Linked DNA regions of Homo sapiens: regions 2, 3, 4 and 5 are each linked to region 1. Evidence: fine-mapped QTL for protein levels in blood plasma. A gene starts in region 1. Each other region holds a variant in brackets. All regions are shown on one strand. Distances are from middle to middle.

What was found. PIP is the chance, under the fine-mapping model, that this variant and not a neighbour inherited with it causes the effect. Protein levels are from antibody-based Olink assays in UK Biobank. Linkage for the fine-mapping came from a reference panel and not from the study's own genotypes, which makes the PIPs less certain.
Region 2: its variant is fine-mapped to the plasma level of the TNFRSF10B protein (UK Biobank, PIP above 0.99).
Region 3: its variant is fine-mapped to the plasma level of the TNFRSF10B protein (UK Biobank, PIP above 0.99). The variant lies in the coding sequence of TNFRSF10B. If it changes the protein, the assay may bind it differently, which can mimic a change of level.
Region 4: its variant is fine-mapped to the plasma level of the TNFRSF10B protein (UK Biobank, PIP above 0.99).
Region 5: its variant is fine-mapped to the plasma level of the TNFRSF10B protein (UK Biobank, PIP above 0.99).

The regions. Positions count from the first base shown.
Region 1 is chr8:23,065,657-23,071,770 of GRCh38, reverse strand. TNFRSF10B (TNF receptor superfamily member 10b) reads left to right here and starts at 2,740. Exons shown (of 9, transcript NM_003842.5): 1 at 2,740-3,020. The coding sequence starts at 2,877. It also overlaps the pseudogene TNFRSF10B-AS1. RefSeq lists enhancers at 420-919, 1,241-1,535, 2,317-2,486, 2,507-2,556, 3,097-3,356, a cis regulatory region at 2,750-2,755 and promoters at 2,210-2,880, 1,648-5,361.
Region 2 is chr8:23,020,502-23,026,615 of GRCh38, reverse strand. TNFRSF10B (TNF receptor superfamily member 10b) reads left to right here. Exons shown (of 9, transcript NM_003842.5): 8 at 2,356-2,428; 9 at 3,632-6,114. The coding sequence ends at 3,945. Among named protein-coding and RNA genes, the nearest start is that of RHOBTB2-AS1, 24 kb to the right of the region's middle. The variant A/G (reference allele first, on the strand shown) is at 4,395.
Region 3 is chr8:23,040,589-23,046,702 of GRCh38, reverse strand. TNFRSF10B (TNF receptor superfamily member 10b) reads left to right here. Exons shown (of 9, transcript NM_003842.5): 2 at 3,460-3,565. Among named protein-coding and RNA genes, the nearest start is that of TNFRSF10B, 25 kb to the left of the region's middle. The variant C/T (reference allele first, on the strand shown) is at 3,515.
Region 4 is chr8:23,112,502-23,117,501 of GRCh38, reverse strand. TNFRSF10C (TNF receptor superfamily member 10c) reads right to left here. Exons shown (of 5, transcript NM_003841.5): 3 at 2,732-2,845; 4 at 1,886-1,994; 5 at 57-861. The coding sequence ends at 471. Among named protein-coding and RNA genes, the nearest start is that of TNFRSF10C, 12 kb to the right of the region's middle. The variant C/T (reference allele first, on the strand shown) is at 2,808.
Region 5 is chr8:22,985,175-22,991,288 of GRCh38, reverse strand. The region is part of intron 1 of RHOBTB2-AS1 (RHOBTB2 antisense RNA 1); the gene reads left to right. It also overlaps a transcript of RHOBTB2 not described here. Among named protein-coding and RNA genes, the nearest start is that of RHOBTB2, 11 kb to the left of the region's middle. RefSeq lists an enhancer at 2,841-3,597. The variant G/A (reference allele first, on the strand shown) is at 2,885.

The DNA.
Region 1 (6,114 bases):
GGGAGCACGGCAGGGCCCAGCCATCCACAGCCTCCAATTTCAGTACTCTCTAACAACCTGAGAGCCTGAGCCTTCGGATCTTCTTGATTCCTACTTTGATAAAGAGAGGGATGGGGTTGGAAGGACCTGGCATAGAGATTGGACCAGTCCGGCATTGACAGAGCCAGGACCTGGGGTCCGGAACTGAGCTCAGCTCCAGGCTCATCTGAAGTCACCCTGACAGCCTGAGGATGGAGACCTTATTTCCATTAACAGGCATGGCGGTTGGCAGGGACTGGCCCCAGCTGAGCACGGTTTTCCAAGTACACAGCTGGGAATTAAGTCTTCTCTGCCGCCCTCCCCTGTAGTCTTGCCTGGATCCCCCCAGTCATCTACTCCCAGTACCAAAAACTCCTGTATTCTTGAAAATCCGTAGTACTGAGAGGTGACAGCTTGCTGGCAGTCCTCAACAGCCCTCGCTCGCTCTCGGCGCCTCCTCTGCCTGGGCTCCCACTTTGGCGGCACTTGAGGAGCCCTTCAGCCCACCGCTGCACTGTGGGAGCCCTTTTCTGGGCTGGCCAAGGCTGGAGCCCGCTCCCTCAGCTTGCACGGAGGTGTGGAGGGAGAGGCGCGAGCGGGAACCGGGGCTGCGCGCGCGGCACTTGCGGGCCAGCTGGAGTTCCGGGTGGGCGTGGGCTCGGCGGGCCCTGCACTCGGAGCAGCCGGCCGGCCCTGCCGGCCCCGGGCAATGAGGGGTTTAGCACCCGGGCCAGCGGCTGCGGAGGGTGTACTGGGTCCCCCAGCAGTGCCGGCCCACTGGCGCTGCGCTTGATTTCTCGCCGGGCCTTAGCTGCCTTCCCGACGGGCAGGGCTCGGGACCGCCATGCCTGAGCCTCTCACCCCCTCCGTGGGCTCCTGTGCAGCCGGAGCCTCCCCGACGAGCACCTCCCCCTGCTCCAGGGCGCCCAGTCCCATCGACCACCCAAGGGCTGAGGAGTGCGGGCGCACGGCGCGGGAGCACGGCGCGGGACTGGCAGGCAGCTCCACCTGCAACCCCGGTGCGGGATCCACTGGGTGACGACACCTGGGCTCCTGAGTCTGGTGGGGACGTGGAGAACCTTTATGTTTAGCTAAGGGATTGTAAATACACCAATTGGCACTGTGTATCTAGCTCAAGTTTTGTAAACACACCAATCAGCACCGTGTGTCTAGCTCAGGGTTTGTGAATGCACCAATTGACACTCTGTATCTAGCTAGTCTGGTGGGGCCTTGGAGAACCTTTGTGTCCACACTCTGTATCTAGCTAATCTGGTGGGGAAGTGGAGAACATTTGTGTCTAGCTCAGGGATTGTAAACCACCAATCAGCGCCCTGTCAAAACAGACCACTCCGCTCTACCAATCAGCAGGGTGTGGGTGGGGCCAGATAAGAGAATAAAAGCAGGCTGCCAGAGCCAGCAGTGGTAACACTGTGGAAGCTTCCTTCTTTCCCTCTGCAATAAATCTTGCTACTGCTCACTCTTTGGGTCCACACTGCCTTTATGAGCTGTAACACTCACCTTGAAGGTCTGCAGCTTCACTCTTGAAGCCAGCGAGACCACGAGCCCACCAGGAGGAAAGAACAACTCCAGACCCACTGCCTTAAGAGCTGTAACACTCACTGGGAAGGTCTGCAGCTTCACTCCTGAGCCAGTGAGACCACGAACCCACCAGAAGGAAGAAACTCCGAACACATCCGAACATCAGAAGGAACAAACTCCAGACACGCCGCCTTTAAGAACTGTAACACTCACCGCGAGGGTCCGAGGCTTCATTCTTGAAGGCAGTGAGACCAAGAACCCACCAATTCCGGACACAGTACCATGAAGGAATGAAAATACATAACAATGTGATGTATCATGTTTTATTTCCTAGACTAGTGACAAATGAAAGCTAAGTGTAGCAAGGGTGCAGGGACACAGGCACATTTGTGGACTAGGTGTGAGTGTAAGCTGGGTTCGATGGTCTTTTGGCCAACATAGTGAACCCCTGTGTCTACTAAAAATACAAAAATTAGCCAGGCGTGGTGGTGCAGGCCTGTAGTCCCAGCTACATGGGAGGCTGAGGTGGGAGTATCGCTTGAACCTGGGAGACGGAAGTTGCAGTGAGCCGGGATCACACCACCGCTCACCAATCTGAGCCACAGAGAGACTGTCTCAAAAAATAAACCACAAGGAAGGGAGGTAGGGGGAGGGGGAGGGAGGGAGGAAAGAGAAAGAGAGAAAGGAAGGAAAGAGAAAGCAGGAAGGACGGAAAGAAGACGAAAGAACGAAAGAAAACGAAAGAAAAAAGGAAAGAAGAGAGAAGGAGAGAACAGAAGGGGCAGGTGCCCCTGGGAAGGGGAGAAGATCAAGACGCGCCTGGAAAGCGGACTCTGAACCTCAAGACCCTGTTCACAGCCAAGCGCGCGACCCCGGGAGGCGTCAACTCCCCAAGTGCCTCCCTCAACTCATTTCCCCCAAGTTTCGGTGCCTGTCCTGGCGCGGACAGGACCCAGAAACAAACCACAGCCCGGGGCGCAGCCGCCAGGGCGAAGGTTAGTTCCGGTCCCTTCCCCTCCCCTCCCCACTTGGACGCGCTTGCGGAGGATTGCGTTGACGAGACTCTTATTTATTGTCACCAACCTGTGGTGGAATTTGCAGTTGCACATTGGATCTGATTCGCCCCGCCCCGAATGACGCCTGCCCGGAGGCAGTGAAAGTACAGCCGCGCCGCCCCAAGTCAGCCTGGACACATAAATCAGCACGCGGCCGGAGAACCCCGCAATCTCTGCGCCCACAAAATACACCGACGATGCCCGATCTACTTTAAGGGCTGAAACCCACGGGCCTGAGAGACTATAAGAGCGTTCCCTACCGCCATGGAACAACGGGGACAGAACGCCCCGGCCGCTTCGGGGGCCCGGAAAAGGCACGGCCCAGGACCCAGGGAGGCGCGGGGAGCCAGGCCTGGGCCCCGGGTCCCCAAGACCCTTGTGCTCGTTGTCGCCGCGGTCCTGCTGTTGGTGAGTCCCCGCCGCGGTCCCTGGCTGGGGAAGAGCGTGCCTGGCGCCTGGAGAGGGCAGGGAGAGAGGGGGACACGGCGGGGGTGCGTGGCCCGGGTCGCCTGCGGCCGGGCATGTCCGGGCAAGACGCACCAGTCGTCGGAGTCGGGGGAAGAGATGGGTCCCCGGGTTGGGCAGGAGCGACCTGGGCCGCCAGGGAACAGAGCGCGCGCTCCACTTGGTGTAAATTCCCGAATCCAGTGGGGGAGGGCGACAAGGAGGGAATTCCCGAGTAAGCTGCGTGAAGCCACGGAGAGGTCGTCGGACTTTGATTTTGTTTTCTTTCCTTACTTTCTGTTTCTTTCTCTTTTTCTCTTTCTTCCTTTCTTTCCCTCCCTTCCTTCCTCGCTCAGTTCCTGCCTTAATTTCTTTTTCTTTTGCGCCTTCGAATGAATTCCTAAAGGCGCTCATTGCAGATCGCTTTGAACCTGCGGCCGGCGAAGAACTCCCCTGTGGTCGCTGCGGCCCAGTGGTTCCGTTCCGTGCGCGGGAGTCGTCGCGGGCGCAGCTGGAGAGGCCCCTTCCCCTCCTTAGCGGCTGCGCCCCTACGCGTGCGGGGCCGCTCATCGCCAATGCCATTGTTTGGGGTTCCTTGGGAAAACGAGATTTAGGAGAAGGGAGTTGTGGCACTTGGGGCCTGACCTGCTTGATAATAGCAGCTGCATTTTGGCCTGGGAAGAGCCTTTCTTGCCACCTCTTGGCAAGTATCCGTGATAATGGGGAAGGGACAAAGAGTCGGCTTTGTAGGGAACAGCATGGTGTGCTCAGCGCCTGGAACTGCGCTTGGGGCCAGGAGAGGTTCTGAATCATCACATTTTACAGAGGAAGAGACCGCAGCTCAGAGTGGGGAAGTGTGTGGGCCTAGACCTAACTCAAGACTGTACAGAGGGGCTGGAAGGGAGAGGAGGAACAGTGAAAGGAAGGTCAAGAGAATGCTGGTGTTGACCTAGAAGAATGTCAGTGTGAAGCATTGGAGTTTCATGGGATATTGTTACACACCTCATGTTTTCACTGTTTCCGCCCCACACCACAGTATGTCCTTGGTCTCACCTCTGAGTGGAGGGAGGACCTAACTGTCCTAGTGAGGAGAGTGTACAGGGGCCTCTGCCTCCCCCTCCTGCTGTGGTTTCTGTGGGCCTAGGTCCCCAGGGCATCTTGCCTCTCTTTGGGTGGTGGATCTTTGGTCTCTGGCTGCTTTTAAAGATTTTTCTTAGCACTGGTTTGCAGTGATTTGGTTTGTTTGCTCTGTTGTGGGGTTTTTTTTTTATCTCTATAAAGAATTTTTTGGATTTTTGGCTTTAGACTTTCATGTTCTTTCTACTTGGAAGATTTTTCTGTAAAGAAAGCCACAACTGGGTTGTGTTGAATTTCTTGGATTTGGGGTTTTAGAGTTTATGTTCTCCTTGGAGACTTTTCTGTAAAGAAAGCCACAACAGCCGGGTCTGGTAGCTCATGCCTGTAATCCCAGCACTTTGGGAGGCCGAGGCGGGCAGATCACATGAGGTCAGGGATTCGAGACCAGCCTGACCAACATGGTGAAACCCCGTCTCTACTAAAAATACAAAATTAGCTGGGTGTGGTGGTGGGCACCTGCAATCCCAGCTACTTGGGAGGTTGAGGCAGGAGAATCACTTGAACCTGGGAGGCAGAAGTTGCAGTGAGCAGAGATGGCGCCACTGCACTCCAGCCTGGGAGACAAGAGCAAGACTCCAACTCAAAAAAAAGAAAGAAAGAAAGCCACAACAGAGTTATGTTGAATTTCTTGGATTTGGGGTTTTAGAGTTTATGTTTTTGTTTGTTTGTTTGTTTGTTTTGAGATGGAGTCTTGCCTCTGTCGCCTAGGCTGGAGTGCAGTGGTGGGATCTCAGCTCACTGCAACCTCTGCCTCCTGGGTTCACGCCATTCTCCTGCCTCAGCATCCCGTGTAGCTGGGACTACAGGCATGCACCACCACGCCCAGCGAACTTTTTGTATTTTTAGTAGAGACGGGGTTTCACCGTGTTAGCCAGGATGGTCTGGCTCGTGATCTGCCCGCCTCAGCCTCCCAAAATGCTGGGATTACAGGGGTGAGCCACCACGCCCAGCCGAGTTTATGTTCTACTTGGAAGATTTTCAGCCATTATTTCTTCAAATACTCTGTCTCTTCTGGTGACTGAGATCTTATTATATTTACGTTAGAATGTTAGATTTTGTATCAGAGCTAACTTAGTATCTGTTCTTTTTTTTCCCCCATCATTTTCTATGTTTCACTTTGGACATTTCCCTGTGAGGGCTCTTCAAGTTCATTGATCTGCTTCTGCAGAATCTAACCTGCTGTTAATCTCATCTACTGTATATCAGATATATATTTTTTGAACTTTAGAAGTTCTCTTTTGGCATTTTTAATATCTTCCATCTATTTCCTGGTCATCTTTGTGTTTTTCTTTTTTGAGACAGGGTCTTACTCTGTCACCCAGGCTGGAGTGCAGTGGCACAGTCAGAGTTCACTGCAGCCTCAACCTCTTGGGCTCAAGTGATCCTCCCACCTCGGCCTCCCAAGTAGCTGGGACCACAGGCACTTGCAACCACACCTGGCTAATTTTTGTATTTTTAGTAGAGACGGGGTTTCACCATGTTGCCCAGGCTGGTCTCAAACTCCTGCGCTCAAGGAATCCTCCCACCTTGTCCTCCCAAAGTATTGGGATTACAGGCCTGAGCCACCGTGCGCAACCTATGATTTTGGTGGTGGTGTTTTTTGTTTTTCTGTTTTTTAAATATTCTTGAGTATATTTGTAAGCTTTAGATGACCTGTTTTAAGTTATTTAATCTATCAACACCATTATATCTGTTATTACGGCCACTGTTTCTGTTGATTACATTTTTTTTCCTGCCCATAGGGACTTTTTTTTTCATGCATAGTAATTTCTTATTGCTTGACATTGTGAATTTTGCTTTCTTGGGTACCGAACATCACTGTGTTCTTTCAAAGTCTATTGGGCATTATTCTGGTCACAGAAAACTGAGGATCAGTTTGCTCCTCTGATACTAGCTTTTATCTACATATAACTATATACCT
Region 2 (6,114 bases), 45 kb after region 1:
AAATCTGTATATACATTTATTGTTCATTGCTCGTAAGCACTGAAAGTCCTTCCCTCGAACATAAGATGAGACTATCCAGTTTCCTGCAGTGTTTTATTTTTAATGATTTGATTTTTAACATACAGCAATATAATCTAAACAGAATTGAATTTTCGATTCAATATAAGCTGAGAAACTCCCTGAATTATTCTGAGTCTCTGTTTCCTTCTTCCAAGCCCATTTAGCAACCAATTCTTCCTTTTTCCCTTGCCTTTGCCCTTTTGCCACCTCCTTTGCTACATGTCAAATGTTTACTTTTTTCTCTCTTCCTCTTCACTCTTTTTTAAAAAAACAAACAAACAAAAAAAAACTAGATCTTATCCTTGAAAATGTCAAATGTTTATATGGGCAGAGATCTCTTCCACCTAGACTGTTTCTGTTTCTTCCTTGCATCTGTACCACTTTCTTTTTAAATAAAGAGAAGAGATTTTAAAAGGAAACAAATGAACAATGCCAATACTTCCTCCATGCTTATTAATGACTTTGAAGATTTTTTTTTTTGAGACAGGATCTTGCTCTATCACCTGGGCTGGAGTGCAGTGGCACCATCTTGGCTCATTGCAACCCCTGCCTCCTGGGCTCATGTCATCCTCTCACCTCAGCTTCCTGAGTAGCTGGAACTATAGGCATGTGCCACCGTGCCCAGCTAAGTTTTGTATTTTTTGTAGAGACGAGGTTTGGTCATGTTGCCTAGGCTGGTCTCGAACTCCTGAACTCAGGCAATCCACCCTCCTTGGCCTCCCAAAATGCTGGGATTACAAGCATGAGCCACCATGCCTGGCCTGATCATTTTTTGAAAGCAGGTCACCCATAGCCACACATCCACCAGAGTATGAAAAAACTTGATCATACCAAGAGCCTTCTTTACTCTTTCCCAGCCTTTTGGCCCTTCTTATTTCAGGTAACTACAGTGGATAATTTCTTGTGATTCTTTGCTAAACTCTTTATGCATATACCATCTAGGTACATAAATGCATATGTATTTATGTGGTATTGACATGAAAAGGATTATATCATGTACAACACCAAACAAAACTGTCTAATATGTTTTAATATCTTAGACAGCAAATATGTTTTCAAAATTATTTTTACACATCTTATAATTTAGAATTAGATAAAATTTAGAATTATAAGATTTTCTCTAGTACCCCTCCCGCCCACATAGTCACTAGACTTTACAAATATTAATTTAAATTAATACATGGTTCTAGGAATGATTGACATCCTTTCAACATTCAATTTTATTATCAAAGAAGATAATATTTCAAGTCAAGTGTTCTATTATGACTCAATCGAGATTTGGGAGTTTATTTCAGATAAATTTTTCCTATTCCTCATCAAAGCTGTTTCTTTGCATTTTGGGTCTTCTTGTAAGTCCATTTTCTAATTTATTATGTCTGCTGCTACTTTTCTTTTCTTTCTTTCTGAGATGGGTCTCACTCTTGTCACCCAGGCTGGAGTGCAGTGGTACAATCATGGCTCACTGCAGCCTTGACCTTCTAAGGCCAAGTAAGCTCGGACTTACCGGCTTCTGAGTAGCTCGGACGACAGTTTTGTGCCACTACACCCAGCTTATTTTATTTTATTTTATTTTATTTTTAGAAACAGGATCTCGCTATGTCGCCTAGGCTGGTCTCAAACTCCTGGGCTCAAGCAGTCTTCACACCTCAGCCTCCCAGAGTGCTGGGATTACAGGTGTGAGCCACCATGCCTGGCCTCTGCTATGTGGTTTAACATTCATCAGGGCTAGGTGCAGTGGCTCACGCCTGTAATCCCAGCACTTTGGGAGGCCGAGGCGGATGGATCATCTGAGGTAAGGAGTTTGAGACTAGCCTGGCCAACATGGTGAAACCCTGTCTCTACTAAAAATATAAAAATACGATAAAATAATTAGCTGGGCATGGTGGTGCACACCTGTAATCCCAGCTACTTGGGAGGCTGAGGCAGGAGAATCTCTTGAACCCAGAGGTGGAGGTTGCAGTGAGCCAAGATCGCACTATTGCACTCCAGCCTGGGAGACGGAGTGAGACTCTGTCTCGAAAAAAAAAAAAATCATCAAGACATATTCACTTTTGAGTATTACAAATTAAACCTTGGGGTTTTAAAAATATACACTCCTAATCTAAAATATTGACTGCTGTATCGGCCTCCTTCCGAGAGTCTTGCCCCTTTGTCTCCTGTCTTGTTGCCAGACCTTTCAGAACAATGTTCTGGAAGTGACGTGCTGCAGGTCTCAGAGCTGGCTGGTGGTCGGGGTCAGTACTGGACTGTAGGACTCCTGGCTCTGACCAGGACATTCCCCACTATGTGTTACAGGAACCGGCAGAAGCTGAAAGGTCTCAGAGGAGGAGGCTGCTGGTTCCAGCAAATGAAGGTGATCCCACTGAGAGTAAGTGTTTTGCTCCTGGAGATGCAGCAGGAATGGAGGGAATAGGGACAGGGTCCTAACTGCTGTCCCCAGAGGTCAGAGGGCTCTTCCAGAGTATTCCATGCTGGAAGCCGTGGGTCCTGTGCTATAGACCATCTGGACCCTAAACTGTCTTCTCCCATCTCTTCTCCCCACTCTACCTCATCCTCTCTGCACCCTATCATTGACCCTAATGACTCTGTCCGTCCCCTCATCCTCTCTCCTCCTTTGTTCAGGGCCTGATGTAGCCCCCGCCTGCCCCTGAGGACCTCCTGAGGGGCTGGCCTGTCCTGCACAGCACCACTAACCCCAGTGGGCTAAGGAGCTCTTGACCTGTGCCTCAGCCCAATTTGCAGAGCTGTTGTGTAAACTACATACGAATGCCAAAGACTTAATGCAAAAAAGAGTGGAAAATATTTCACTCATAATTTTTGTATATTGATTGTATATTAAATTATATTTTAAATATATTCAGTACCATACATTAAAATGAATGTCACTTGTTTCTGATGTTCTTTAAAATAAGGCTGTTGGAAAACATAGCCTCGTGTTCCTGACCCTGTCTATCTCTGAGGACGGCGAGGTGCATCATGTTGCACACACGTCTCATTTAATCCCTCATCGTCCCGAGATCTGGGCAGCATTGCTCGGTCTTTGGGTTCACTTCTTGCTCAGAGTCTGTTTGCCTCCACCTAGCTCTGCCCCAGCCCCAGGAAGTGAGGCCGAGCTGGGTGAAAACAGAGGTCCCCTGTCCCAGGCCCTGTGCTTTCCACAGATGCAGAAGTGGCCGCCCTGGGACCTGCTCCCATGACAAGCGCAGCCCAGGCAGCCTCCTCCCTCCTCTAAGCTCCCGCTGCAGCCACTGTCTCTCCCTCCCTCGGACTCTCACGCACTTTACTTTCTGCCTCTGTAACGTCCATCCATACTCCCCTGGTGGGTTCTCAGCCCTGTATGAGGGCTGATTCTCTGACGACTTTGACTCCCCGCAGTGCCTTGCGTGTGGGGGAGGCCAGGCAGTGTGGGCGCGCTCTCTGTGGATGGGAAGCGGGTGGGCACTGGAGCGGCAGGTTTGCCCGCACACGGGGCTCTCCAGGTTCCCCGCCTTGGGTTCTGGGCCTGATGTGGAATCCTCTGCCCTTTCTGAGTCCCAACTCACCTGGCTGTCTCTGTGGCTTTCTCCACCAGCTCTGAGACAGTGCTTCGATGACTTTGCAGACTTGGTGCCCTTTGACTCCTGGGAGCCGCTCATGAGGAAGTTGGGCCTCATGGACAATGAGATAAAGGTGGCTAAAGCTGAGGCAGCGGGCCACAGGGACACCTTGTACACGATGCTGATAAAGTGGGTCAACAAAACCGGGCGAGATGCCTCTGTCCACACCCTGCTGGATGCCTTGGAGACGCTGGGAGAGAGACTTGCCAAGCAGAAGATTGAGGACCACTTGTTGAGCTCTGGAAAGTTCATGTATCTAGAAGGTAATGCAGACTCTGCCATGTCCTAAGTGTGATTCTCTTCAGGAAGTCAGACCTTCCCTGGTTTACCTTTTTTCTGGAAAAAGCCCAACTGGACTCCAGTCAGTAGGAAAGTGCCACAATTGTCACATGACCGGTACTGGAAGAAACTCTCCCATCCAACATCACCCAGTGGATGGAACATCCTGTAACTTTTCACTGCACTTGGCATTATTTTTATAAGCTGAATGTGATAATAAGGACACTATGGAAATGTCTGGATCATTCCGTTTGTGCGTACTTTGAGATTTGGTTTGGGATGTCATTGTTTTCACAGCACTTTTTTATCCTAATGTAAATGCTTTATTTATTTATTTGGGCTACATTGTAAGATCCATCTACACAGTCGTTGTCCGACTTCACTTGATACTATATGATATGAACCTTTTTTGGGTGGGGGGTGCGGGGCAGTTCACTCTGTCTCCCAGGCTGGAGTGCA[A/G]TGGTGCAATCTTGGCTCACTATAGCCTTGACCTCTCAGGCTCAAGCGATTCTCCCACCTCAGCCATCCAAATAGCTGGGACCACAGGTGTGCACCACCACGCCCGGCTAATTTTTTGTATTTTGTCTAGATATAGGGGCTCTCTATGTTGCTCAGGGTGGTCTCGAATTCCTGGACTCAAGCAGTCTGCCCACCTCAGACTCCCAAAGCGGTGGAATTAGAGGCGTGAGCCCCCATGCTTGGCCTTACCTTTCTACTTTTATAATTCTGTATGTTATTATTTTATGAACATGAAGAAACTTTAGTAAATGTACTTGTTTACATAGTTATGTGAATAGATTAGATAAACATAAAAGGAGGAGACATACAATGGGGGAAGAAGAAGAAGTCCCCTGTAAGATGTCACTGTCTGGGTTCCAGCCCTCCCTCAGATGTACTTTGGCTTCAATGATTGGCAACTTCTACAGGGGCCAGTCTTTTGAACTGGACAACCTTACAAGTATATGAGTATTATTTATAGGTAGTTGTTTACATATGAGTCGGGACCAAAGAGAACTGGATCCACGTGAAGTCCTGTGTGTGGCTGGTCCCTACCTGGGCAGTCTCATTTGCACCCATAGCCCCCATCTATGGACAGGCTGGGACAGAGGCAGATGGGTTAGATCACACATAACAATAGGGTCTATGTCATATCCCAAGTGAACTTGAGCCCTGTTTGGGCTCAGGAGATAGAAGACAAAATCTGTCTCCCACGTCTGCCATGGCATCAAGGGGGAAGAGTAGATGGTGCTTGAGAATGGTGTGAAATGGTTGCCATCTCAGGAGTAGATGGCCCGGCTCACTTCTGGTTATCTGTCACCCTGAGCCCATGAGCTGCCTTTTAGGGTACAGATTGCCTACTTGAGGACCTTGGCCGCTCTGTAAGCATCTGACTCATCTCAGAAATGTCAATTCTTAAACACTGTGGCAACAGGACCTAGAATGGCTGACGCATTAAGGTTTTCTTCTTGTGTCCTGTTCTATTATTGTTTTAAGACCTCAGTAACCATTTCAGCCTCTTTCCAGCAAACCCTTCTCCATAGTATTTCAGTCATGGAAGGATCATTTATGCAGGTAGTCATTCCAGGAGTTTTTGGTCTTTTCTGTCTCAAGGCATTGTGTGTTTTGTTCCGGGACTGGTTTGGGTGGGACAAAGTTAGAATTGCCTGAAGATCACACATTCAGACTGTTGTGTCTGTGGAGTTTTAGGAGTGGGGGGTGACCTTTCTGGTCTTTGCACTTCCATCCTCTCCCACTTCCATCTGGCATCCCACGCGTTGTCCCCTGCACTTCTGGAAGGCACAGGGTGCTGCTGCCTCCTGGTCTTTGCCTTTGCTGGGCCTTCTGTGCAGGACGCTCAGCCTCAGGGCTCAGAAGGTGCCAGTCCGGTCCCAGGTCCCTTGTCCCTTCCACAGAGGCCTTCCTAGAAGATGCATCTAGAGTGTCAGCCTTATCAGTGTTTAAGATTTTTCTTTTATTTTTAATTTTTTTGAGACAGAATCTCACTCTCTCGCCCAGGCTGGAGTGCAACGGTACGATCTTGGCTCAGTGCAACCTCCGCCTCCTGGGTTCAAGCGATTCTCGTGCCTCAGCCTCCGGAGTAGCTGGGATTGCAGGCACCCGCCACCACGCCTGGCTAATTTTTGTATTTTTAGTAGAGACGGGGTTTCACCATGTTGGT
Region 3 (6,114 bases), 25 kb after region 1:
TTTGAAATCAGGTAGTGTGATGCCTCCAGCATTGTACTTTTTGATCATGATTGCCTTGGCTATTTGTGTTTTTTTTTTTTTTTTTTTATGGTTGCATATGAATTTTAGGATTGTTTTCTCTATTTCTATGAAAAATGATATTGGAATTTTGATAGTGATTACATTGAGCCTATAGATTGCTTTGGATAGTATGGACATTTTAACAATATTAGTTCTTCCAAGTCATGAACATTTATTTTCATGCATTTGTGTCTCTTTCCGTTTTATTTGTCTCTTCTGTTTTGTTCATTAGTGTTTTACGGTTTTTAACATACAGGTCTTTCACTTCCTTAGTTAAATTTACTAATTTTTTTTTGTCATTGCTCTTAATAGGTTTGTTTTCTTAATGTCTGTTTCATATAGTTCATTATTAATATATAGAAATGCTACTGATTTTCATATGTTGATTTTGTATCCCACAACCTTACTGAATTTGTTTACAAATTTCTAACAGTTTTTTGGTGGAGTCTTCAGGGTTTTCTATACAGAAGATCATGTCATCGGCAAATAGACAATTTTACTTCTTCCTTTTCTATTTGAATACCTAATAATTCTTTTCTTTTTCTTGCCTAATTGCTCTGGCTAGGACTTCCAGTACCATGTTGAAAAGAGGTGGTGAGAGTGAGCATCCTTGTGTTGTTCCTGATATTAAAGGAAAAGCTTTCAGCTTTTCACTGCTGAGTATGATATTAGCTGTAAGCTTGTCATATAAGGCTTTTTTTGTGTTGATACATTCCCTTTACACCTAATTTGATTAGAGTTTTTATCATGAAAGAATGTTGTGTTTTGTCAAATGCTTTTTCTACATCTAATGAGGTGATCATATTGTTTTTGTCCTGCATTTTGTTAATATGGTATATCACATTTATTGATTTTCATATGTTGAACCATCTTTGCATCCCAGGAACAAATTCCATTTTATCATGGTCAATGATTCTTTTAATGAGCTATTGAATTTGGTCTACTGGTATTTTATTGAAGATTTTTGCATCTGTGTTTATTAGAGATATTGGCCTATAATTTTCTTTTCTTACAGTGTTCTATTCTGGCTTTGGTATCAAGGTAATGCAAGCCTTGTAAAATAAGTTTGGAAGTAGTCCCTCCTCTGTAATTTATTTGGGAAAGTTTAGAAAGGATTGGTTTTAGTTCTTGTTTAAATGTTTTGCTGAATTCAGCAGTGAAGCCTTCTGGGTCCTGGGTGTTTCTTTGATAGGAGACTTTTCATTACTGATTCAATATCCTTAATCATTATTGGTCTGTTCGGATTTTCCATTTCTTCATGATTCAGTATTGGTAGGTTGTATGTGTCTAGAAATTTATCCATTTCTTCCGGGTGGTTCAATCCTTTGGCATATAATTGTTCATAATATTTTCATATGATCCTTTGCATTTCTGTGGTATGCATTGTAATGTGTCTCATTTTTTTTTTTATTTGAGACAGAGTCTCCCTCTGTTGCCCAGGCTGGAGTGCAGTGTGACAATCTCAGCTTACTGCCACTTTCACCTCCCAGGTTCAAGTGATTTTTGTGCCCCAGCCACCCAAGTAGCTGGGATTACAGATGCACACCTCCATGCCTGGCTTTTTTTTTTTTTTTTTTTTTTTGTATTTTATTAGGGACGAGGTTTTGCCATGTTGGCCAGGCTGGTCTCCAACTCCTGGCCTCAAGTGATCCATCCGTCTCGGCCTCCCAAAATGCTGGGATTATAGGCATGAGCCACTGCACCTGGCCTCCTCATTCATTTTTGATTTAATTTATTTGTCTTCTTTCTTTTTTCTTAGTTAGTCTAGTTAAAGTTTAGTGATTTCATTTATTTTTTCAAAAAACTAACAGAATTTTGATAATCTTTTGTATTTTTTTCAGTCTCTATTTATTTTTGCTCTGATTTTTATTATTTCTTTTGTTCTGCTAACTGTGGGCTTAGTGTATCTTTTCTTCTATTTCCTTGAGGTACAACATTAAGTCTTGTATTTGAGATCTTTCTTCTTTTTTGATGTAGGCGTTTATTGCCATTTCCTCTTAAAACTGCTTTTGCTGCATCCCATACATTTGGTTATGTTATGTTTCCATTTCATTTTCTAATATACTCTTAAAATTCCCTTTTGATTTCCTCTTTGACACATTGGCTATTCAGGAGCTTGTTACCATTCAAGTTCTTTGTTCATTTCTTAATCACATTGTTGGCTTTTTGTTGTTGTTGTTGAGTTGGAGTTTTTTATATATTTTAGATATTAACCTTTTATCAGATATACAACTAGCAAATGTTTTCCTCTTCCTGTGGGTTGCCCCTTCACTGTTGATCATCATTGGATGCACAAAAGTTTTTAATTTTTACATAGTGCAATTTATCTACTTTTTTTCCTATATTGCTTGTGTTTTGGGGATCACATTCAAGAAATCATTGCCAAATCCAAGGTCAGGAAGAATAGTTCCTATGTTTTCTTCTAAGTTTTAGGGTTTTCACTTTTATGTTAGATTTTGGATCCATTTTGAGTTAATTTTTGTATACGTGTAAGTTAAAGGTCCGAGGTCATTGTTTTGTGATGAGTCAATGTCTAGATTTCCCAAGACCATTTTTAAAAAGATTGTCCTCTCAATTAAATGGTCTTTATACCTTTGCCAAAAATTACTTGATCATATACAGTCATGCACCACATAACAACATTTCTGTCAACAACAGACTGCATATGTGATGGTGGCTCCATGCAATTATGTAACATGCTACACAGGTTTGTAGCCTAGGAGCAAAAGGCTATACCATATAGGCCAGGTGTGTCATAGGATACACCATCTAGGTTTGTGTAAGTACACTCTTCTGATGTTCACACAACACAATTGCCTAATGACCCTTTGCTCAGAACAATGTTGAGCAATACATGGTTGTACGTGCAAGTTCATTTCTGGGCTCTCTGGTCTATATGTCAGGCACCTTTTAAATCAGAAGTTCACTATTTAATGTTTGATCCTGTATCCCAATTTTTTAAGTTTGCTATATTATAACCCCCATTTATAAAAATGTGTGTCTGTGTGTATGTCTGTGTGAGAGAGAATAAGAGAAAGAGAGAAAGAGAGAATAGGCATACCTATGGAAAAATAGTGGAACTAAATGAGACAAAATATTAATGGATGCTATCTTTAGCTGAGAATATCACGTGTGGTCTGTGTATTCTTGTAAAAACTTTCCTTGCCCACATTTTCTGGAATGAACATGTTTAGAAGAGTTTTGCAGGTGTATGTTACTTGGCCTTCCCTGAAATATGAAGGGACAAACAAACACTAAAGGATGTTTGAGAGGTGAGAGCTGCAAGAAAGATGAGGGTTCTGTTTAGCTTGGGTGCCTGGGCTCAAGAGAATGTGAGTGGATCCTGGGAGGGGTGAGGTCTGGAAGCCACTCATGCCCATCCCTGCTTTGTCCCCACAGGTCTCAGCTGAGTCTGCTCTGATCACCCAACAAGACCTAGCTCCCCAGCAGAGAG[C/T]GGCCCCACAACAAAAGAGGTCCAGCCCCTCAGAGGGATTGTGTCCACCTGGTATGTTCAAGATGGGTCTCTAATCCTTGCCCCTCCTCCCCTTGTCTCCATGAGCTTCCAGTCTGTTTCCTTTGCACTTCCTTGTTCTTTATTCCACAGAGAGGCATTGGGTGCCTCCAGTTCAAGGCTCTGTCCTTCTGGAGCCTTCCTGCTAGGATGGTATCAAGACACACAAATGAATGAGACAGCCAAAGAAACTGATAGGAACCTTGAGAGAGAATTGAGTGGGACAGAGATGGGGCTGGTGAGGCCTCCAGGCAATGGTGACTTTGGGCTGACATCCGGAGGAGGGCAGGGCCAGAGGTTCAGAGAGCCAGGAAGAGTGCTCCTAGGAGGGTTCCACTGGAACAATTGCCAGGGGGCAAGAGTTGGAGAAGATGGAGCAACAGCAGGGGGCTGCTGTGGGGAGTGGAGGGTTAGGAAGTTAGAGAGACACGTGGGGTCAGATCCCACACAGATGAAGCTGGATTTTATTTCATGAGTGATGGATGTCCCTGAGAAGTTTTCAGCAGAGGGCCACCAGCATCGGATGTACATCTTGAGTGCCCACTCCTGGACTGAACCGGAGCAAGACAGGAAGCAGGTGGAGGGCCTTGAGTGTGAGGCGCTCCCCTGGGATGTTATGTGGTGTCCCGTAAGGTCATTTGAGCCCCCAGAGATGCAGCAGGAACCTGGCCTGAAGTGTGCTTGACTGTTGTGTTCGCCTCGCACTTCTTCCCCCTTTTCCCCCATGTGTATGAGTTAGGAATTGATTGCTGCATGAAGGTTTCCAGGGCAGGCAAGTGTGGCAAGCAGTGGCTTTTAAAATCCATTTACAAAGTTGCATTTCTTTTCCATGACTAAGGGCCACAGGAAAGGCTTGCCTGAGGGCAAACCCTCACATTGCACATGTGGGCTTGCCAGGAGCAGAGCATGGAGAAGGAAGAACCCAGCGTGAAGCAGACACAAACTCATCTGTAAATGCTCCTATTGCTGTGGTCCAGGGTCAAGACCAGGAAGCAGGACGGGAATAGGAAGGACTCAAGACATATTTGGGGTGTGGATGGATGACGTGTGGGGAATGAGGACAATCGAGGCACCAAATTCAACTGCTCAGGGTAACTTGGCCTCTGAGGGGACAGTGTGTGGCAGGGCTAGCAGTACACATTTGGGGACCCTAGCACATAGGTGATGCTTGAAGCCGCTGTCTTGAGTGTGTCCACCTGGAAGAAGTTGTAAATACTGAGGAGGGGCACAACTGAGCCCATGAGGATTTGAAGTTGGAGACGATAGGCCAGGGAGACAGGACTGCAATGGGCTGAGCAGGAGCAGTTGGAGAACTTCCATCCTAGAGGAGAGATGGCCCTTCCAGCCACAGGGAGCAGGCCATAGCAAGTGTCAAGGACTGAGATGTGGAAACTCCTCGAAATGTGCATTTCTCTTCCTGTGAATGAGGTCAAGAATCTGTTCATGACACAGACACTGTTTGTACACTGGTTCTCCTAGGTTTTCTTCACTCCTAGTAAGAGGTTAGGTTTTTTTTTTTTTTTTTTTTAAATCATTGAGTCACATGAATTCTTACAGATTAGGGAAATTATACATTGATTGATTGATTGATTGACTGATTGAGATAGGATTTCACTCTGTTGCCCAGGCTGGAGTGCGGTGGCAGGATCATAGCTCACTGTAGCCTCAACCACTTGGGCTCAAGCGATCCTCTCACCTCGGCCTTCCAAAGTGTTGGGATTACAGGCGTGAGCCACTGCGCTGGGTCCAAAATTCTAATAAAAATTCCCATATAACGCCGGGCGCAGTGACTCACACCTGTAATCCCAGCACTTCGAGAGGCCAAGGTGGGCAAATCACTTGAGGCCAGGAGTTTGACACCAGCCTGACCAACATGGCGAAACCCTGTTTCTACTAAAAATACAAACATTAGCTGGGTATAGTGGCGTGCCTGTAGTCCCAGCTACTTGGGAGGCTGAGGCAGGAGAATCGCTTGAACCCGGGAGGCAGAGGTTGCAGTGAGCTGAGATCACGCCATTGCACTTCAGCCTGGGTGACAGAGTGAGACCCTGTCTCAAAAAAAAAAAACAACAAAAAAAAAATTATCATATATCTTTGCAGTCATTTTGTGGTTTCCTATTTTGTAATTAAGTCATTGAGCCACATGGACTTCATTTTGTAGTAAGAGGAGAGTGAGGAAGACACATTATTATTTGACAGCCACCTTTTTGGTTGCCCCAACACTATTATTAAATAATCACGTTTTTATCAGTGACATGAATCACTATGATTATGTATGATACTTACATTATTAAGTAAGGTTTGTGTAATTTGGATTTTTTAGAATGTCTTTCAATATTAATAAAAATAATTCAGGAATCTTGTGGCTAGCATATAGGTGATTATGGTCTATTTTTTGCGTTTGTTTTTACTCATTCTGCCACTCTCTGCCTTTTAATTGCAGAGTTTAAACTATTTTCAATTAACATAGTTATTGACAAGAAAAGATTTGTTTCTGCTCTTCAGTTATTTGTTTTCTTTATGTCTTATATATATTTTGTTCC
Region 4 (5,000 bases), 46 kb before region 1:
ACCCTGAGGAAGGGGGATGAGAAGGGGAACTAGAGTAAAAACCAACACACGGAAAATCTCTGTGTTCTGCTCTGACCAAGGCTGAATAAATCCCGTGACCACTTCTCATCCTCACCCTTGTCACCCAGTTGAGGAGCCGACTGCCCCCTGCCTGGCTGGGCCTGAAGATGGGAGGAACTGGCCCTGCCCTCTTGGACTTGGCTGGGAGATGTGTGGACCCCCAGCTCCAGGAGAGGGACTGATGAGACCAGGGTCCTGGGGGGTGCACGGGATGTGGGGATGGGACGATCACAAGGAGGAAGATAGAGCCAGGCTGGAGACACCAGGACTTGGGGCAGGGGCAGGCGTTTCTGTCTGTGGGAACACAGCAGAGGGAGGCAGGGCAGAGAGTGTCCAGCGCCCCCCGCCCTCAGCCAGCGCCTACCTGAACCTTTCAGGTAAGGAAGGAATTTCTTCCACAGTGAAGTCTTTCAAACAAACACAATCAGAAGCACAATTAGAACTATGATCCCTACGATGGTGCATGAGAGGTAATGAGAAGAGGCAGGAGTCCCCGGGCTGGTGATCATTGTCTCTTCAGCAGCTGGGGCAGGAGTCCCCGGGCTGGTGGTCATTGTCTCTTCAGCAGCTGGGGCAGGAGTCCCCGGGCTGGTGGTCATTGTCTCTTCAGCAGCTGGGGCAGGAGTCCCCGGGCTGGTGTTCATTGTCTCTTCAGCAGCTGGGGCAGGAGTCCCCGGGCTGGTGTTCATTGTCTCTTCAGCAGCTGGGGTTTCCACAGTGGCATTGGCACCAAATTCTTCAACACACTGGATATCATCCCAGGACGTACAATTACTGACTTGGACTTCCCCACTAGGGCACCTGGGTACACACAGAGAGGGAGGTGAGGACTCCTGAGGGAAAGCTAGCCAGGTGGGATAAAAGGGGAGCCACCCTCCCTCTCCAATGTCCCTGAGAAGGTGTCAGGGGAAGGACAGGCTCCTGTCTGGAGGGGGTCCCCCAAGTTCCCTCGTTGAGGCTGGGGAAGGGTCTGAGCATGCGCATTTCAGCCCCTCAGCCTCCCTGCTCTGGGGCCACAGGAGCCTTCTGTGCCGGGCACACACTGAGCTTCCCTGGGCTGCAGAGGAGGCCTGCGTTAGGAGGAGCCACACTCCAGGGGAAGGTCACGAGCCCTTGTGGCCACAAGCTGAGCCCCTTCCTCCAGTCAACCCACAGTACAAGTGATCTCTCACCCCCAACTGTCTGCTGGTTCCTCCCTATCACGGCAAACATTAGGGGGCCAGAGAAGAACAAATTACTCTTGGCCCTTAAAGCCCAAATAGGGAAAAGACAGGACTTATTGAGGGATTGGGGCCAGGGGTGAGGCCGGCTGGATTGGCTCAGGCCTTCATGGGAACTTGAAGGAGCTCCACCCACAGCCTTCTTATGACTTTTGTCGGCCGTGACCACTTTTGTCTTTATGGGTCCTGCCTGCATAAAAAATATTAAAAAGAACATTTTTTAAAACAGCTTGGTATAGCAACAAATACAACCCAGACTGGATTCAAGTGTTTTCTTCTCATTTCAAAAGGAAATCGCATTTCCTAGGTTTGCTGAAAAGGATCAAGGGATCCAGAAAGTTGCTTCTTGTGCCCAGTGAACAAGTTGGTCTGGCCAAGGGGACTCGTGCTGGGGAGGGTCTGGGAAGGGGCTGCTGCAGGGGGTAGGGGTGGGGACAGGCAGATGGACCAGGAGCGGCCACTGCAGACCCAAGAGACCCCACAGGCTCAGGGACACCCCATGGGTCTGGAGGCTCCATAGGGTCAGCGGAGAAATAGGGGTACCAGGTGACTCAGGTCTTCTCGGGTTCCTGAAAGCTGTCAGGAGCCCCTGACTGCTGTCTCACCTGCTACACTTCCGGCACATCTCTGGGGAGTTTTCATTCCGGAAGGTGCCTTCTTTACACTGACACACTGTGTCTCTGGTCATGGTGCAGGAACTTTTATGTTTTTGATCTGACAACAGAGCATAAGGTTTTGGGAATGTGTTTCCCTGATGTATCCCTCGATCTTCCTTACCACCCACCCCCTCCCACTCAGCTCAACCAAGTTCACCAAGGAGTTCTAAGGGCCAGTTTCTGCACCAGCACACTCAGGGCTCATACAGGACACCCACCCTTCAGCTGTCACCAGCACTCAGAGGAGTCATAAAAAGGAGCATAATTCATTATTTATTACATCAGATTAGGGGAAAAGCATTGTTTAGATGGCATGGTCAGTAGCAAGGGAGGTGCAAGGGCATCACCTGAGAGACTCTGCAAGGAGACGGAGGCCTTGGGGGACTTCCCCAAAGCCTGGGCCTGCTGGGGAGGAGGAAGGGGCCTGAGAACCTGAAGGCTGAGTGAGGCCGAGCACCTGCCAGGAGCACAGAGCCTGGGGGAGAGAGCCTGGCCCTGGAGCAGACCCGTGCCACTACTGAAACCTAGCCCTGTCCACTGGGCCAGGCCTTCTCTATGCTCTAATGATCCCCCCACCCTCTTGCAGCTGACAGTTTAGACGATTTCCCAGCCAGGTGGCATGCATTATAGAAAAGATTTCTTTCTATTTTTTTAATCAGTCAAATATATAATCATAGAACAGGGTGATGAAGACCAGGTTGGGCTGGAACTTGGTTCCCTGACTCATATCGGCTACAACTCCCACCTCATTGCCCCACGCTCCACCTCTGGACAAGAGGTCCACACATTCTGTACCTGATTTACAAACTGTACATGGGAAGCAAGAAGGTTCATTGTTGGAAGCGTTGGTGTAATCCACACCCTCTGTGCA[C/T]GGGTTACAGGCTCCAGTATGTTCTGATCTATGAGATCCTGGGAAGGAAGAGAAAAGCCAATGAATGAGTCACCACAGAATTCCCAGAGGCTGACAGTGGTGGGGAAACTTCTTTTTTGGCCCTCACTGGAATTGAGACAGAGAAATCCACTCTTCCAGGCTTGGTCTTGTCATCCATTCAGCATCTATTACATACCTTTGACTGGCACTGCTGACAGAAATATAATACAAAATTCAAATTCTATGCAAAATTCAAATTCTATGAGAGCCATATTAAAATAGTAAAAAGAATGAGGCCAAATTAATTTTAACAATATAGTTTTAACCTAAAATATCTGAAATACTACATTTCAACATGTAATCAATACACATCATTGAGATATTTTACTTTTTTTACGCCGTCACTCACAAAATAACATCCAACCTACTGTACATGTGATCTGCCCATGCTGGTCCACCTGACCTGTTTGCTGTCCACTCACCACAGTGGCCCCCTGTCTTCGCTCAGTCTCCCCAAGCCCCCGAAACCTGGGGTTCTCATTCCTTCAGGGCCTTCTCAAGAGCACTCTTCCTGGCTCTCTGCAAGACTGGCCCTGTCCAACTTTAAATATCAGCCCAAATCACCATCCCCGAGAGGCCCCACCAACCTTGTCTATCTCCTGTCACTTAACTATTCTTCATGGTTCCCATCAGGACATCCTGACTGTTATGTATATTCATGTGTCTTTTTTTTTTTTTTTGAGACAGAGTCTTGCTCTGTCACCTGGCTGGAGTGCAGTGGCACAATCTCGGCTCACTGCAACCTCCAACTCCCTGGTTCAAGCGATTTTTCTGCCTCAGCCTCCCGAGTAGCTGGGATTATAGGCGACGCACCACCACGCCCAGATTTGTATGGAACTACAAAAGACCTCAAATAGCCAAAGTGATCTTAAGCAAAACAAACAAAAGAACAAAGATGGAGGCATCGTACTACCTGATTTTAAAACGTGTTACAAAAGTATAGTAATCAAAACTGAATGGTAATGGCACAACAATGGTAAATAAACTGATGGAACAAAATAGTGAACCCAGGTATAAATCAATGCATTTACAGTTGATTGATTGTGAGAAAGATACCAAGAACACAAAATGGGGAAAGGACAGCTCTTCAATAAATGGTGTTGAGAAAAGTAGGTATTGACATGCAGAAGAATGAAATAAGACCTTTATCTCACATCATATGTAAAAATTAATTCAAAATGGACTAAAGATTAAAACATAAGATCTGAAATGGTAAAACTACCACAAGAATACATAGGGGAAAATTTTCATGATGTTGGTCTGGGCAATGGTTTCTTGACTATGACCCCAAAAGCACAGGCAACAAAAGGAAAAACAGACAAATGAGGTTACATTACACTAAAAAGGTTCTGCATGACAAAGGAAACAATGAACAGAGTGAAGAGACAACCTACAGAATGAGGGTCAATATTCAAAAGATCCAAGATTTTGGTTAAAATCCAAAATACACAGGAACTCAAACATCTCAATAGCACACAATCAAATAATCCAAGTAAAATGGATACATGGGCGTGGGACCTGAATAGACACTTCTCAAAAGGAGACATAGAAGTGGCCAAAAAGTATATGAAAAAAATGCTCAGCATCACTAACCATCAAGTGCCAAATATCACTTCACACCTGTAAGAATGGCTATTACCAAAAAGACAAAAGGTAACAAGTGTTGATGATGGGGAGAAAAAGGAATGCTGGTACACTGTTGGTGGGAATGGAAATTAGTACAGCCATTATGGAAAACAGTATGGAGGTTCCTCAAAAAACAAAAAATAGAACAACTATATGATCTAGCAATCCCACTATTGGGTATACATCCAAAGGAAATGACGTCAGTATATTGAAGAGATATCTTCCCTCCCATATGCATTGGAGCATTATTTACAATGGTCAAGACATGGAATCAACCTACGTGTCCATGGATGGATGAAAAGTTAAAGAAAATGTGACACATAGATACAATGGAATACTATTCAGCCTTTAAAAAGAAGGGAGTTCTGTCATTTGTGTCAGCATGGATGAAGCTGGAGGATACTATGCTAAGTGAAATAAGCCAGGCACAGAAAGGCAAACACCTCATGATCTCACATATGTGGAATCAGAAAAAGTTGGTCTCATAGAGGTGGAGAGCAGAATGGT
Region 5 (6,114 bases), 80 kb after region 1:
CTGGTGGGAAGTATACAAGGCTGGATGGGCCCTGGATGGACGAGGGCAGGGAAAGCCGGCCAGAAGTTTCCTGAGGTGCTGACAGTGATGAGAAGCCCACAGGGCAGCTGCATTGCTTTGGCCTTCTCCGGACCCACAGCCCTCTCTCAGGCTCCCATCAGCCCAAGTTAGCAGCTACCTCTGAGCTCACCCACGGGAATCCCACCCCCTCCCAGAGTGACAAATTTTAAGCTAAGAAGAGGGAAAGGACTTGGGTGGAGAAAACCAAGTGTCCAGTCTGACTTGTCACAGCCAAAGCACTGCGCTGCAGGACATGGCTATTCCCCCCGACACAGCCTCTGACCCCTCCACAAGGCATGAATTGAGGTCGGGGGAGGCAGGCAAGCAGGCCAGACCATAGGCAGCTGATGCAGGGACTGGAGAGGCAAGAAGCCGATGCTGAGCTAGAAGCCTTCTGTGGAACAGGCTGGACCCCAGATGGCCTGGGATGCGGGGGCCTGGGTTGAGCGGCGGGGGCCACAGGCTGCTGCTGTACTGCCCATTGGACACACGGTTCAGGGTGCCTCAAAAGCCACTAAACACACGCCTCAACCTTCTGGTTGTCTGTGGCTTACCACTTGCCTGGAAACATTCACTCTAGGTCACATGATCTTCCTCCCAACCCACCCTCTTCCTCCTCCTTCTGGGAGGTGCCAACAGAGAGCCCCCTGGGAGCCTGGGCTGCTGGTGGAAGCCTGGCTGGAGGGGAGAGTCTCCCTAGAGTGGACTGACGCGCTGCCACCTCTGCAAAGCCTCACAGCGGCCGCCCCTTCACAGATGCAGAACTGAGGCCCAGAGAGCCGGGGACTAGGAGGTATCAAGTCCAAGGTCCAGCCAAGATGTCCTGCCTGCAGGCTGCCTCCCAGCTGCAGGCCTGCAAGGTGGGGTGCTGGGGGTGTGGAGGGCGAAGGTGGCACGGGTGCACCAGCAGCCCTTCTGGGCCAAAATACACCTGACCTGCCTGTACAGCACCCCAAGTCCCCTTGCTTAACCTGGGTCCCCCTTTTCTCTGAAAAATATGAGACTTGTTTGGTCCTTCCTTCGTTTATCCTTTCTTTTTTTCATTTATCAAATGCATGTTAAGCTCTCGCTAGTGCCACACCCTGTGCAAGAGATGGTGAGGATGATAAAATGATGATATGCTATCATGTCATCAAGGAGCTTAAGTCTAATAATACTAATACTAATAATAACTTACTGAATGTTTATTACATGCCCGGGATTGTGCTGCATGTACTACCTCATTTAAATTTCAAAACAATCCTATGAGATGGAGGAACTATTCTTATCCGCATTTGGCAGAGAAGGAAACTGGAGCTCTGAGAGGGGATGTGACTTGCCAGGGCTGCAAAGCAGGCAGGCAGGATGAGGGTTCTCATCAGGCGTCTGGCTCAGAGCCTCTTGGGGAGACAGACGCACAGCACAGCCCTGAGGCCTCTTGCCCTAGCACGTTATGCTTAATGTATGTCAAAATCACCCTCTTTATCTTACAGATGAGCAAACTGAGGCCTACGCAAAGTCACGGCTAGTTTGCAGTTGTGTCAGACCCCAGCGCTGTGGTTCTGATGCCAGCTTTTACCTCTGGCCTTCAGTTTCCTCTTGCTTGCCTGAACCTAGGCAGTTTCCTTAGATGATCCCCAAGTTCTGAAATTCTGATTGTATGATGTTAGCCTAAGACATGTTAGGGAGACAGAACAGAGAGGCAGGAATGGCTCAGCTGAAACTAGACCTGGAGCCCTGCCACATCCACAAGCACCCCGGGGAACAATCCTTGCCCAGTAGGGAGTTAAGAATGTTGAAATGCGGCCAGATGCATGGCTTATGCCTGTAATCCCAACACTTGGGAGACCAAGGCTGGTGGATTGCTTGAGGCCAGGAACTCAAGACCAGCCTGGCCAACATGATGAAACCCTGTCTCTACTAAAAACACAAAAATTACCCAGGCGTGGTGGCATGCACCTGTAATCCCAGCTACTTGGGAGGCTGAGGCAGGAGAATTGCTTGAACCCAGGAGGCAGAGGTTGTAGTGAGCCAAGATAGTGCCACTGCACTCCAGCCTGGGCGACACAGAGAGACTCAGTCTCAAAAAAAAGAAAGTGGAAATGTTTTCTTGCTTCAAGGCACGTGACTTTTAACTCAATTGAAGGAAAGTATGCGTGTATTGATAGAGATGGCCATCAGAGGAACTGACAGGTCTTAGCAGTTACAGATGAGTTTCCTCTAGAGGTCAGGGAAGAGGGAGAAGATACAAAGTTCTTTAACTTACAGTCTGAGGCAAAGGTGAACTTAACAGGGCCAGCAAGATCCTTACATGGTGAGGTAAGAGGGCCCAAATCAGCCAAGCTGCCACTTCTGCAGAGCCCGTGCCCTTCTCCACCTGTGTCGGTGGAGGCTATCAGCCTCAGCCCCTTGTCTGAGTTATCATAGCCTCGCTAGCATCTGTCTCAGCCCCAACCCTTCCAAAAGCCAGGGTGACCCATTCAGCTACTCCTTTGCGAGGAAGTGACAGCAGCCTGGCTGGGTTGTGGGTGGGGGAGTGGTTGGGGGTCTCTGTTGCCCTGGAAGGAATTCCTACAGTAAGCCTGAGAGCTCCTGGCCAAGTGTGGCTACAGAAAGGAACAAAATTTGGGGGGCTGAGGGCAAGAGAGGGAGAGGATTAGGGATGCTGCTCAGTTTCTCTTGATAAATGGATCCTGCTGCCTGAAGGATGGGGAGCTCCCAGAGTTGGGTGGAGCCATGAATGGGCCACCCAGGACGTGGGAGTGAGTAGTAAGAAAAGGGGGAAGGAGGTCAGGTGCGGTGGCTCACGCCTGTAATCCCAACACTTTGGGAGGCCGAGGTGGGC[G/A]GGTCACTTGAGGTCAGGAGTTCGAAACCAGTGTGGCCAATATGCTGAAACCCTGTCTCTATTAAAAAAACAAAAAAATTAGCCAGGCATGGTGGCAGGCCCCTGTAATCCCAGCTACATGGGAGGCTAAGGCAGGAGAATCACTTGAATTCGGGAGGCGGAGTTTGCAGTGGGCCGAGATTGCGCCATTGCACTCCAACCTGGGTGACAGAGTGAGACTCCATCTCAAAAAAAAAAAAAAAAAAAAAAAAGGGGAAGGAGCAGGACAACAGAGATGCTGGAGAGCAGCCTTCAGTTGGGGAGGGGCAGGAGATAGAGTGGGCATGAGGGCCTAGGCGGCCCTTTATCACAAGCTGTTCCTGTGTTCCCCTTGGCCAGTGACCCCTCTGGATGGATAGGATTCAGTGGGTTGTGGGGGGTGGGGTGCAGTGTCATCTACTTGATCTTGGGGGCCTTCCGTTCCGTCCTGGCCAGGGTCACAAGGAGAGAGTGGCATCCAGGCCTGCCGCTGGCACATGGCGACTGGTGACACTCCCCCTGGACACCCTCATGACGAGTGGAAGCCCTCCACCTCCTGCCCCAGATCTGGCTGCCACAGGTTGCTGCTGGGCCACAGTCCAGGGGCCACCGCACCTTGATGGGGAAGATTCCTGATTGCTGATTGCCCCCACCCCTCGTGCTCCCTTCACACATCCCTCCTTTGGAAGAAATCTGATTCTGAGAACTGGAAATTGTGCAGTGCTGTGAGTGACCAGGTGAAGATAGGTTAGAGAAGCCAGGGCTTGGAGATCCCTCTCTTTTCCCTGGGCACAGAGCAAGGGCCCAAGGATTGTAGACTTACCTGCCACCTCGCCTCTGGGGCTCTGCTGGCCTGTCACTATTCCCTGTCCTGAAGTAGTGTTCTCGACCAGGTCTGCAGGAAGAAACAACACAAGGGTTTTAAGGGCTGGGATCCAAAGTCCAGCTTATGGGAAGGCAGGTGAAGGACATGATTCCTGTGACCAGGGGGCCGGCCTGCTGGTCAGTTCCCTCCTCCTCCAGGGCTGTGCAAAGCCCAGAGATAAACCCTGGGCCAGAGGCTTTGTTCCCCGTCCAGGGCTGTGCAGAGCACAGAGATAAACCACCTAGACCGGAGGCCCTGTTCCCCATCTTTGGCCAGGTGAGCATTCTTGATGCCTGGCCCAGCCCCTGGCCCTCAGGGCACTATTTTGGTCCACATCCTGCTCTTATTGTCCTGGCCTGTTCTTCTCAGCCCCTGGTGACTCACACTGCTTTGGAATTTCACTCACTGGCCTTTCTGACGCACATCTTGAGAGCCTGGCCTACAGCCAGGGAACAAGTTATGGCTTCAACCCCACCAGTAATTAATTCTGGCTACCTGAGCTAGAGGCCATGGAAGGTGGGGAGAGGGAAGGCCACGAAGAAGCAAGGTAGGGGTGGTTGCTGGTTGATGGGAGGAGGCTTTGCTCCTACTTCTGCTCACCTGCACACAGGTAGAAAACAAACAGCAGAAAAGCTATCGGCTCACAGTGGCCGGACATCCGGGGCTGGCCAGCCGGGAGACATGTGAAGCAGGACTGATCTAGTGTAAAATCTAGACTGGCCATTATGCTTCTTGGAGTGGATTTCTGGACCTTAGTTTACCTTTTTGTGAGTCCTATAGGTTTGATAGCTCCTGATTTGGGATGCTAAGGACCTTTATACTGAGGTGATCATGCCTCCATGTCACTCCAAATTACTTGAGCTCTGTTTTCTCTCCATTTTCAATATGTTTTGACGGGTTGGCCCTGGATAGAATTCTGGAGAAGGGAAGAGAGAAAGAAAATTGCCATAACAATGCACTGGGGGCCAGGCGTGGTGGCTCATGCCTGTAATCCCAGCACTTTGGGAGGCTGAAGTGGGTGGATACTTTGAGTCCAGTAGTTCAAGACCAGCCTGGGCAACACAGCAAAACCCCGTCTCTACAAAAAATTAGCCAGGCATGGTAGCCCATGACTGTAGTCCCAGTTATCCAGGAGGCTGAGGTGGGAGAATCATCTGAGCGCAGGAAGTTGAGGCTGCAGCTGCAGTGAGGCACTGCACACCTGGGCGAAAAGAGTGAGACCCTGTCTCCCAGAAAAAAAAAAAAAAAAAAAAAAAGCAATGCACTGGGCTGGGAATCGAAGACCTGGATTCATTTCCAGCAACCCATTCCCTGGCAACCCCTTACCAAGTGCCTCATCAGTTAAATACGAAAGAGAGAGAGAGAGAGAGAGAGAGAGAGAAGTCCACCGTCCTTGCAGTGTTCCCTCCCATGGGTCTCTGATGTTCGCTGCAGTCACTGGCAGAGGCCCCCTGGTTCTCCACTCCTCTGGAAGGCAACTACTTTTCCCATCTCTTACTTAACTGTCCTTGACCTGCTTCCCCCTTCCAGCTTCCCAGGCTTGAGGGGTCCCAGCCTTGCTCCTGCGCCTGCTAGCACCTCTGTTGAGAAGGGCTTTGTGCCGCCTGCTGGGCTGACTCCTGTGGGTGCACTGGTGGGTAGGCCAGGGGAGAGCCTGAGTGGGTTCTAGAAACAATGCCCTTACATGTAACTCCAGCCCGAAGAGTGACTCCAGGCAGAGGAACGGCTGGCCAGGTCAGGGGCATTGGAGTGCCTGTGAAGACACACCCTGAGGTCTGGTCAATCCTCTGCCTTCTCATCAGGCAGGTCTGGCTGGGAATGTTCTATAGGGAATGCCGGAAAAGCATGCTTCCAGCCCTCCATCGCACCTTCCTCCCTGTTGGGAAAAGGGCTTGTGGGGCGCCTGCATAAACTGGCCATAAAAATATGGGACAATAAGTTGTGGAAAGCCACAAGAGGCCTCTGAGGAGGAAAGCCTCCTAATTGCCATCATGTTCCCATGCTCAGAGCGAGACCTGCTCTCTTATCTATAAACACTGTGTTCAAGGAGAAAGACACTCCTTTGAAGCATTGGAATGTGGACAGACGTGCAGCCTCCTAGTTAAGCACACTCCCACTAGCTCCTCTCCGATAAGTTAAAGATACGCTGTTTGAGCACAAAGGAGATTCATTTAAACCGCTATTGCTATAGATTACGCCTGTGACGCAGTGCCTCCCTTTCACTGTTTCACCCTGAACATCTGCTTCTTAGATCGAAGTGATTGTACTCAATAAATAGTGTGGAACCAGAACTCTGGGCCTTTTGCAGCCTCCATTTTGCAACTGGCCCCCTGGCTCCCACCTTTAT